Regions from separate parts of the Homo sapiens genome. Here region 1 is linked to region 2. The links come from fine-mapping of genetic effects on gene expression. Tissue or cell type: whole blood. Region 2 holds a variant in brackets; the other region holds the start of a gene. All regions are shown on one strand. Distances are from middle to middle. Region 1 holds the start of DND1 (DND microRNA-mediated repression inhibitor 1). Region 2 overlaps LOC105378198 (a long non-coding RNA gene).

What was found. PIP is the estimated chance that this variant, and not a neighbour inherited with it, causes the effect.
Region 1: it holds the start of DND1, and the variant in region 2 is the best candidate, but not a certain one, in a credible set for the expression of DND1 in whole blood (INTERVAL, PIP 0.53).

What each region holds. Positions count from the first base shown.
Region 1 is chr5:140,671,076-140,675,465 of GRCh38, forward strand. DND1 (DND microRNA-mediated repression inhibitor 1) reads right to left here and starts at 2,501. Exons shown (of 4, transcript NM_194249.3): 1 at 2,444-2,501; 2 at 2,196-2,313; 3 at 1,370-1,831; 4 at 1-675. The coding sequence starts at 2,467. The coding sequence ends at 218. It overlaps WDR55 (WD repeat domain 55), which reads left to right. Exons shown (of 7, transcript NM_017706.5): 7 at 1-1,270. HARS1 (histidyl-tRNA synthetase 1) reads right to left here. Exons shown (of 13, transcript NM_002109.6): 11 at 3,942-4,058; 12 at 3,604-3,750; 13 at 2,830-3,253. The coding sequence ends at 3,182. RefSeq lists enhancers at 1,375-2,170, 2,171-2,966.
Region 2 is chr5:140,730,496-140,734,885 of GRCh38, forward strand. LOC105378198 (a long non-coding RNA gene) reads left to right here. Exons shown (of 4, transcript XR_001742904.2): 2 at 1,602-1,665; 3 at 2,590-3,072. Among named protein-coding and RNA genes, the nearest start is that of ZMAT2, 32 kb to the left of the region's middle. The variant C/T (reference allele first, on the strand shown) is at 2,632.

The DNA.
Region 1 (4,390 bases), 59 kb before region 2:
TGGGAGCGGGAGGGCAAGGCCCCTCACCACAACTTAACCCAAACCTAAGCTGCCCCCAGGTGCCATAGGTCCCTGTCCCAGCAGGGAGGCTGATGGGCCTGGGCCCATGCCCCTCCCCACCTTTGGGGGTCAGAAAGTGGCCACCCAGGCCTGCTGGGATGGGGCCTGACACAGGCTCTGCATGCCCATTCAGGGTGCCTGTGGAGAAAGAATGGAGTCACTGTTTAACCATGGTACCTGCCTCAGCCCCAGCAGACCACAGGAGGTTGGCCCCAGACTCACTGAGTGCCTGCAGCAGCCGTACAGACACAGCATCCTTGGCCACCTCATGCCCATCCCGGCCATCTAGGGTCAGCACAACCCAGATGAGGCCGCTGAAGGGCACCGGATGCCCAGGAATCACCACCTGGTACCAGAAGCGGTGCCAGCCAGCAGGTCCTATGCCCAAACACTTGGTGAGGAACACAGGGCTGCCCAGCTTCATTCGTTGGCACAGCAACTGCAGGGTAGCCCGAGCCCCTTGGAACCCTAACTTGTCCCTTGCCAAAGCCAACTGGCTGCCCTCTGGCTGTGGGGACCGCAAGAAGGGACCCACAAGCTGCTGGCGAAGTCGCTGCTTCAGGTCTGGCTTGAGCCACTCCACAGCCACCTGCTCTCCACAGAGGTGTGACTGCCCTGTAGGAAAAATGCAAAGACAAGGGCAGGTCTAAACCCTGGGCCCAAGCCTCCAGGTGGTGAGCCCTTTGGAGCTACACAGTCCTGTTATTTGTAGCCTTCCCATTTCCTGGTAGTGTGACCATGGGTAAGAAAAGACAATGAAGCCTTCAGCCTCCATTATTTGCAAAGGGAGTATAACACACTGCTACCTTACAAGTTTCCTTGGAGAAGTACTGGTTAATTGCAGGCTTTGTCTGCCTCATAACCATCATAATGGCTAATCTTTACTGGGAAAACTTGCTGTAAGTCAGTCAGTGTGCTAAGTACCGTACACCCATTATGTTACTTAATTCTCATAACAGTCTGAGGAAACAGATTCTATAGTAGTAAAAAGCTCAGTTGGATTCCCTTGAGCAAATCAATTTCTCTAACAGTTTCCTCATAGCTTGAGGGTCCTGTGCCTATTTTGCGGTGTGGGGGTGGGGGAAGGTTGAGAATTAAGTCAGGAGGTAATGCTCGGGAAGTGTCACAAATTTAGGTAAGCGGTGGTGGTAGCACCATTGGAAGTTTTAAAAATCTGAGATCAAATAGTAAAAGGTTGCAAATTCTGGCATGTTTGACTCTAAGATCTTGTAACTTTAACAGCTATGCTCAGTATAAAGTGCCGGGCAGAACGCGTTTGGCCCCAACCAGCACCCCCGCCCCAGCCTACCTTCCACCAGGGCCTTTTTGGCCATGGCAGCGGCCCGGTGCGAGCTGAATTTGAGCAGAGCGATCTGCCCGGGCGCCGGTCCGGGGCTGGGCAGCAGCCGCGCCTCCTGCAAGCCGGGACCCAGCGGCTGCAGCGCGAGCAGCAGCGCGCTGCGGGTCAGATTCGGCGGCAGGCCGTCAACGCTCAGCTCACACTTCTCGGTGCTGCGGCACACGAGCAGCGGGCAGGACGGCCGCAGCGGATGGTTGTGCAGCGTGGCGATGGCGGCCTGCGCGCCGCGCCTCGAGCTGTAGCGGGCATAGGCGAAGCCGCGGTTCAGGCCGCTGAAGGTCATCATCAGGCGGAACTCGTAGAGGCGGCCCACGCGCTGGAACAGCGGGATAAGCTGGTGCTCGTACACGTCCTGAGGCAGCCGCCCGATGAACACCTCTGACCCAGCTGGCGGCGGGCTGCCCACCCAGCCTGTGGGAAGAGGGTATGCAAGGCCACCGTCAGGCGACGCTTTCGAATTCTGAGCCCACGGACCCAGCGCGCGGGGGTGGGAGGCGATGTGAACAAAGGTCTGTGAAATGGGTTTACACCCGTACCCTGGGTGGTTGGCATAATTAGGTGACTGCGCTAACAAGGGGGCTGGCACAGAGTAGGTACACCTTGAGATTGGCCCCCTCCCTCGACGGGGCGGGTGGACGTGGAGCCACAGTTCCTCCTTTGCTGGGGGGTATAAATCCGGGTAGTTCGCAGTTTCTGACAGTGAAGGCTCGGAGCAGCCCCTCCCCCAAAGGGGGCTGGTGTAGCCGGACAGGCGGAGGGGCTGGGACTACCGTACCTGGGGGTGGCCCGCCATACTTCCTCTGCCCGTTCACCTGCACCAGGCGGATGCCTGTCTCCCTGACCCACGCCTCCAGCGCCGCCTTGTTCTCTGGATTCACCCTCTCACACCACAGCTGAGAGGGAAAGGAAGGTTGGAATGGCGGATCGCCAAGCGCGCCCCCACCTCTCCTGTGGTACTGGGGTCCCTAAAGCCGACCCCCGCTCCGGCGGGGCTCGCCGGCCCCCAAGTCGCCAGCCGCTTACCTCACAATCCCGCTTGGACTGCATGGCTCTCCAGCTGGCCCCCTCGTACCCTCTTTATAACTTCCTCCCCACCGGCCTCTGGAAGCTTCCCTACCCCTCCACCCCGCAAGCTCTCATTGGCTCTGAGCGCGACCCCGCCTCCCAGGGGGGTGGAGGTATCCACTGCACGTGCGCCGCCCGGGCTTCGCTCAGACCTTCAGGTGAAAGCTGCAAAGTCGCGGGTGCGTATGTACGGGGGCTGCCTCCCGAGGAGGAGCTCCCAAGCCGCAGGGTGGACGCTGGAGACAAGAACCTCAGGGTCACAAGTTTACTGTTTTTCTCCCTTTTCCATCCCTACATTGGTCTGCTGGGGAAGGCGGGGCTAGGCATCACTGACACACGCAGACTCCGTGGTTGAGGCATTTTATTGGACCTTTGGCAATTGGTGGTGGGGAGGCATCTGCTCCAACTGGTGCGGGGCCCTGCAGATGGGACCATCTCAGGCTGGGTCCTTGTAGCCCAGGAGCACAGACTGGACTAAGCCTCCTGGGCCTTGTATGAAAAAGGTGTTGTACCTGGCCGTTTTTGCCAGTAATAATCAATAAAATAACCATAATAAAAATCAAAGGCTCTGTTCTGACCACTCTTCAGGTCTTCCGCTGAAACGGAAAAGTGCAAAGCAATTGAAGTACATATGCAGTTTGTCTTAACCTCAAATAGTGCCAGTCCCACTTCCTTTCCTCTGATAGTTTGTTCAGTTCAGCAGATGCAGAGGGGCTGGCCTGTTCTCCTTTTGATTTCCTCCACAAGGTCTTCTCTTCGGACATCCACCTGGCCAGGATGGGAGAAGAAGGTGGTATAAGCATCTTCCATTCCACTGCTCCCCGAGTGCCTAGTTTCCTCTAGCCCTCTAGGCATCAGGCTTGTCTCAGCTGGGAGCAGGAACCTAATTAAACACCTCAGGCTAGAGTGTGCCTCTTGGGGGAGCCAACAAACCATAAGGTATATGCAGGGATGGAGATCTCACCCTACTAAGACCACAGTAACAGGTTAAGCCCTCAAGGCTTTTATGAGTTGTACTAATATCAATGCCAGGCTTTTTCTCAGGTCTTGAATGGGCATGGGCCTGCCAAAATGGCATACATTCTCTGTCCCTTAGCCTTCCTGCCCACCTCCCTCACCTCTTCCCTGCTCGTCACTGAACGGAGCTTGATGACCCCATCCTTGAGTTCCTGCTCGCCGATGATAGCCACCAGTGGGATGCCTGCCTCCTCACAGTACTGTAACTGGTTCAGTAGCTTTGGGTTCTTCTTGTACAGCAGCTCAGCCTGCAGGGGACAAGAGCAGAAGATGAAGGCTGGCTTCTGCTGTCCTCAGGGACAGAGGGTGTCCAAGCTGGCACCCTGTTCTTAGCTCTACTTTTGAGAAGTAATGGCAGGATCCATTATGGGTGAGCTTTTATTCAGTTTGTGTCCAGCACACCTAAGTTTGCTGCCACCCTGGGGCTTGCCTCCCATACCTTGATCCCAGCATCCCACAGTTCTGAGACAAGCTTTAGTCTTTCCTCTAGCAGCTTCTTCTGTGCAGATGCCACAAGCACCTGTGTCTCCGTGGTCCGTATCTTCTCCTCCAAAGCCTGGGGAAGGGGCAGATAAAAGAGAGCTGGGCTAACACCTTCAAGGAGCAAACAAAGCAGGCTCTAGTCGGGATTTTGAGACCAGGCCCAACTCAGCTCTACCAGGGCAGGGGCCCTGTCTTCTCATCTAGCACCTTGGGCATAAAGGTAGCTTTTAGTAGATATGAGGACTGAACTGACTGACTTGTACATAGGACGTATCAGAATAAATAACTTAGGGCAAGAGTAAAGGTAGCTTTTTTACAGTAACTTCAAGCTTATCTCCATGTAGTACCTTTTTTTTTTTTTTGAGACAGGGTCTCTGTCATCCAGGCTGAAGTGCCGTGGTGTGA
Region 2 (4,390 bases):
ATTACTATTATTATTATTTTTGAGACAGAGTCTTGCTCTTTCACCCAGGCAAGAGTGCAGTGGGGGTATCTCAGCTCACTGCAAGCTCTGCCTCCTGGGCTCAAGTGATTCTCCTCTCTCAGCCTCCTGAGTAGCTAGGATTACAGGCATGTGCCACCATGCCCAGCTAATTTTTGTGTTTTTAGTAGAGACAGCGTTTCAATATTTTGGCCAGGCTTGTCTCGAACTCCTGACCTCAAGTGATCCGCCCACCTCGGCTTCCCAAAGTGCTGGAATTACAGGCGTGAGCCACTGTGCCCGCCCCCTCCATTTACCTGATTTTTATAATAATAATTTTCTCACTCTTCTTTATATCTTTACCACTTATGTATGAATGCCTGGGTGCTATAATTTAGTTTTCCTATTTTGATTACTTTCATAAATATAGTTATATTGAAGTGTTTGTTTTGTTTTGCTTCTTTTGTTCAATAATACATTTGTAAGATTTATCCATTTTGTTTATGTTGTGGGTTACTATTCCATTTAATGAATATAAGATGATTTACTTATTCATTTTAATATTGATGGATATTTGTAGCATTTCTAGTTTTGGTTCATTGTTCATAATAACTGAAACCCAGAAAAAACAGATATTCCCATCTTATACATATGTCCTGCGGCACTTCAGCATATATTTCTCCAGGGTACATACCTAGGAGTCAAACTGCTAAGTATTTAGTGGATTCATGTCTTCAGTTCTATAGTTTTGCCCAGTGGTTTTCCAAAGTATTTCTACCAGCTTACACATCTACCAGCAGTGTATCATGTCCCCAATATTTGGCATTGTACAACTTTAAAAATTTTTGTCAATTTTATGGCTGTAATTTGGTACCTCATTGTATTTTCATGAAAAAAGACAAAATCTTCATTTTAAGTATATAGAATAAATTCACATAATGTATTTTCTTTTTCTTTTTCTTTTTTTTTTTTTTTGGGACGGAGTCTTGCTCTGTCGCCCAGGCTGGAGTGCAGTGGCGCGATCTCGGCTCACTTCAAGCTCTGCCTCCCGGGTTCAAGCCATTCTCCTGCCTCAGCCTCCCCAGCAGCTGGGACTACAGGTGCACACCGCCACGCCCGGCTAATTTTTGTATTTTTAGTAGAGACGGGGTTTCACCGTGTTAGCCAGGATGGTCTTGATCTCCTGACCTCGTGATCTGCCCACCTCGGCCTCCCAAAGTGCTGGGATTAAAGGCGTGAGCCACTGTACCCGGCCCACGTAATGTATTTTCTTATTTAACCTTGAATGCTGAATAGTGTGCGTCTTTTTTTAAAAATACATCTTTAGATAAAATAGTATATTTTCAAAAAAGTACCCAAATCATAAATTTACAGCTCTATGAATTAATACAAAGTAAAGAAAACCATGAAATCACCACATGTCTATAAATAGGACTGTTCCATAAAGCCCTTCTAGAGCCTCCTGTAGTCACTTCTCTCACACTTGTCCTCAGAAGAAAGCCTTGAGGTGATTTCTAATATTACGATTGTTTTGTTTTTTCAACTTTGTATTAATGGAATAATACGTGACTGATTTTCTCATTCCTCCTTATGTTCCCATCCAGGTACTAACCAGGCCTGACCCTACTTAGCTTCCAAGATCAGAGGAGACCGGGCACGTTCAAGATGGTATGGCCAAAGACCCTCATTATGTTTCTAGATTCATCTATTTTGTTGTGCGTAGCAGTTGCTTATTTGCATTGCTGTATGGAAAGTAAGTCAAAAGACTTAATACTTTTGAAAGTAGAAATACTTTCGAAAGCAATTTGGGCTCCTCAATATAGTATAGGTTATGAGAGCTACAACAGTGCTTAGCAAGAGGTTTGGAACATAGAAAGTGTTTATTATACTTCTTTTTTTTTTTTTTTTTTTTTGAGACGGAGTTTTGCTGTTGTTGCCCAGGCTGGAGTGCAGTGGCAGGATCTCGGCTCACTGCAACCTCTGCCTCCTGGGTTCAAGTGATTCTCCTGCCTCAGCCTCCTGAGTGAGTAGCTGGGATTACAGGTGCGTGCCACCACGCTCAGCTAATTTTTTGTATTTTTAGTAGAGACGGGATTTCATCATGTTAGCCAGGCTGGTCTCGAACTCTGACCTCAGGTGATCCATCCACCTTGGCCTCCCAAAATGCAGGGATTACAGGCGTGAGCCACTGCGCTTGGTCTATACTTCTTATATTTGCAGGCAAATACCTTTTTACATTTGACAAATTGCCTTTTTATTTTTGCTTGAGTTTCCCTAAATAAAACTTCCTTGTTGTACTTATGCATGGTTCTATAATGGTGAATCAAGCCATTTACATTGGTGAATGAGAAATTGCATATTTCATGAATGCATGGAATAGTTTATGGTATTTATTCAAAATATTACACATACTTCTGCTTCCAGGAAGGTGGAGTAAATGTAATATTCCCCATTCATCCTGCTAAAACCCCAAAGCATTGTACATAAAACAAATGTAATACAATGAAAGGCAGACAAAAGGCAGACCAGCTAGGGATCTCAAGACTCAAGGTACAACACAGTCGTAAGTTTTTTTTTCCTTTTGTATTCCAGACTTGGAACTGAAGAAGCTGGCAATCTGGAAATGCCAATGGA[C/T]GCAGATTTTAAAAGCCCCAGCAAAAGTCTGCTTTCTCTATTCATAGGACCAGGATCAGGAAGAGGACAGCTTAGAAAGACATAAAATTCTTAGACAATAACTGTTCTACCCCAGCCAAACACCAAACACACACACACACACACACACACACACACTCCAACAACTATGGCCCCACCCACTTCAGCAAAGGCTGAGTAGGAGCCTAAACTTCCACCACTGAGCGGCTATAAGAAGTTACCCCAAGACCCCACCAACGTGGTGTTAAAGAAGGCCAAATAGGGGACAAAATTTTTATCCATGCTGACCAGTTATGAGGTTCCCTTTTTCCCTCTGTGAAATAAAAATAAAGCCCGTAGGTCCCCAGGCAAGATGAAATGGACTCCTTGTTGCAAAAGAGACCCCAGAAAACTTTAAAAGCTGGATTCTATGGCTTTGGCAAGGTAAGAGTTCGGTCACACCTCAAAACTCCCCTACCTCATTAACTGCTTCAAGACTTTCTTTCCTACAGTTAAACGCCTGGGACTACAGTCATGTGCCACCATCCTAGGCTAATTTTTTTTTAAAGGTTTTTGTAGAGATGAGGTCTCAGTATATTGCCCAGGCTGGTCTCAAACTCTTGGGCTTAAGCAATTCTCCATCTCGGCCTCCCAGAGTGCTGGAATTACAGGCGTGAGCCACTGCACCAAGTCAGAAAACTGAGTTTTAAGAAGATTAATATTTTTATGTTTATGTAGCTTTCTGTATTACTTTTAAAGTCTTTTGATTGTCACTTCGGTTAAATGAATATTATTTTACAATGACCCGTGATCCTGTTTTGATCAAATATTTTGGGCCTTTTAACATCTTTGACAAACATCCTCAAAATCAATCCTAAATTAAGTCTTTTTACTTAGAATTAACTTTAAGATTTTCTAATTGGGCCCCTAAAAAGCTTCAACAGATATATCTCTCATTTTATAGAGATATTTTAAATGATTAGGCTTATTTGGTAAATTATATAAAAACATTGTCAAATAATAAGCAATACTAGATCTTCTTTTAATTACACTATGATATGTTGTTGATATAAATGGTTCAAAATTTATATAAATTCAGAAAGATCTAATGTGTTATCAGTCATAATTTTGGTTGTTATCTTAAAATACTACATATAATGTAAATAACTAAATGTTCTTGTCAATTGAGAACTTTCATTAGATTTTAACCATAGCCATTCTAAGTTTTTGTCATCTACAGTTACTGTTTTTAATTCTTCTCTAAAAACATTTGCAATAAGCTATAATCCAAATTGCTTTCTATCGAAAAGACTTTAACATATTTGAATACCAATTTCTCACTTGGAATAACGAAGTTCTTCCCTCCGCGGAAGACTGGACCTCAACACCAGTATCTGACACCAGACTTAGACTAGGGTTCCACCTCATGGCTGAGAAGAAGATGACAGCTGAGGTGGACTGCCTGTCCAAGATGCTGGACCAGGGCTGTATTTTAACTCGCCCACTTTTGACTTAAGACAAATTACCATTGCCATTGCCTCAAGTACCTGCGTTATTGACTGATTACCCTGACGTTGGGAATATTATGTATTCTGGAGATCCTATGTTGTGCTACAATGCTTACCCTTGTATTCCATTTTTAGATACTTCTAAAATTTCTCATCCACCTCCAAGTCCAAAATCCCTTTCCCAGAGCCTATAATCCTCACTTTAGAAAACATAGTTACCATGCTCCTTGTTAATCAAATACTCCATTACCTTA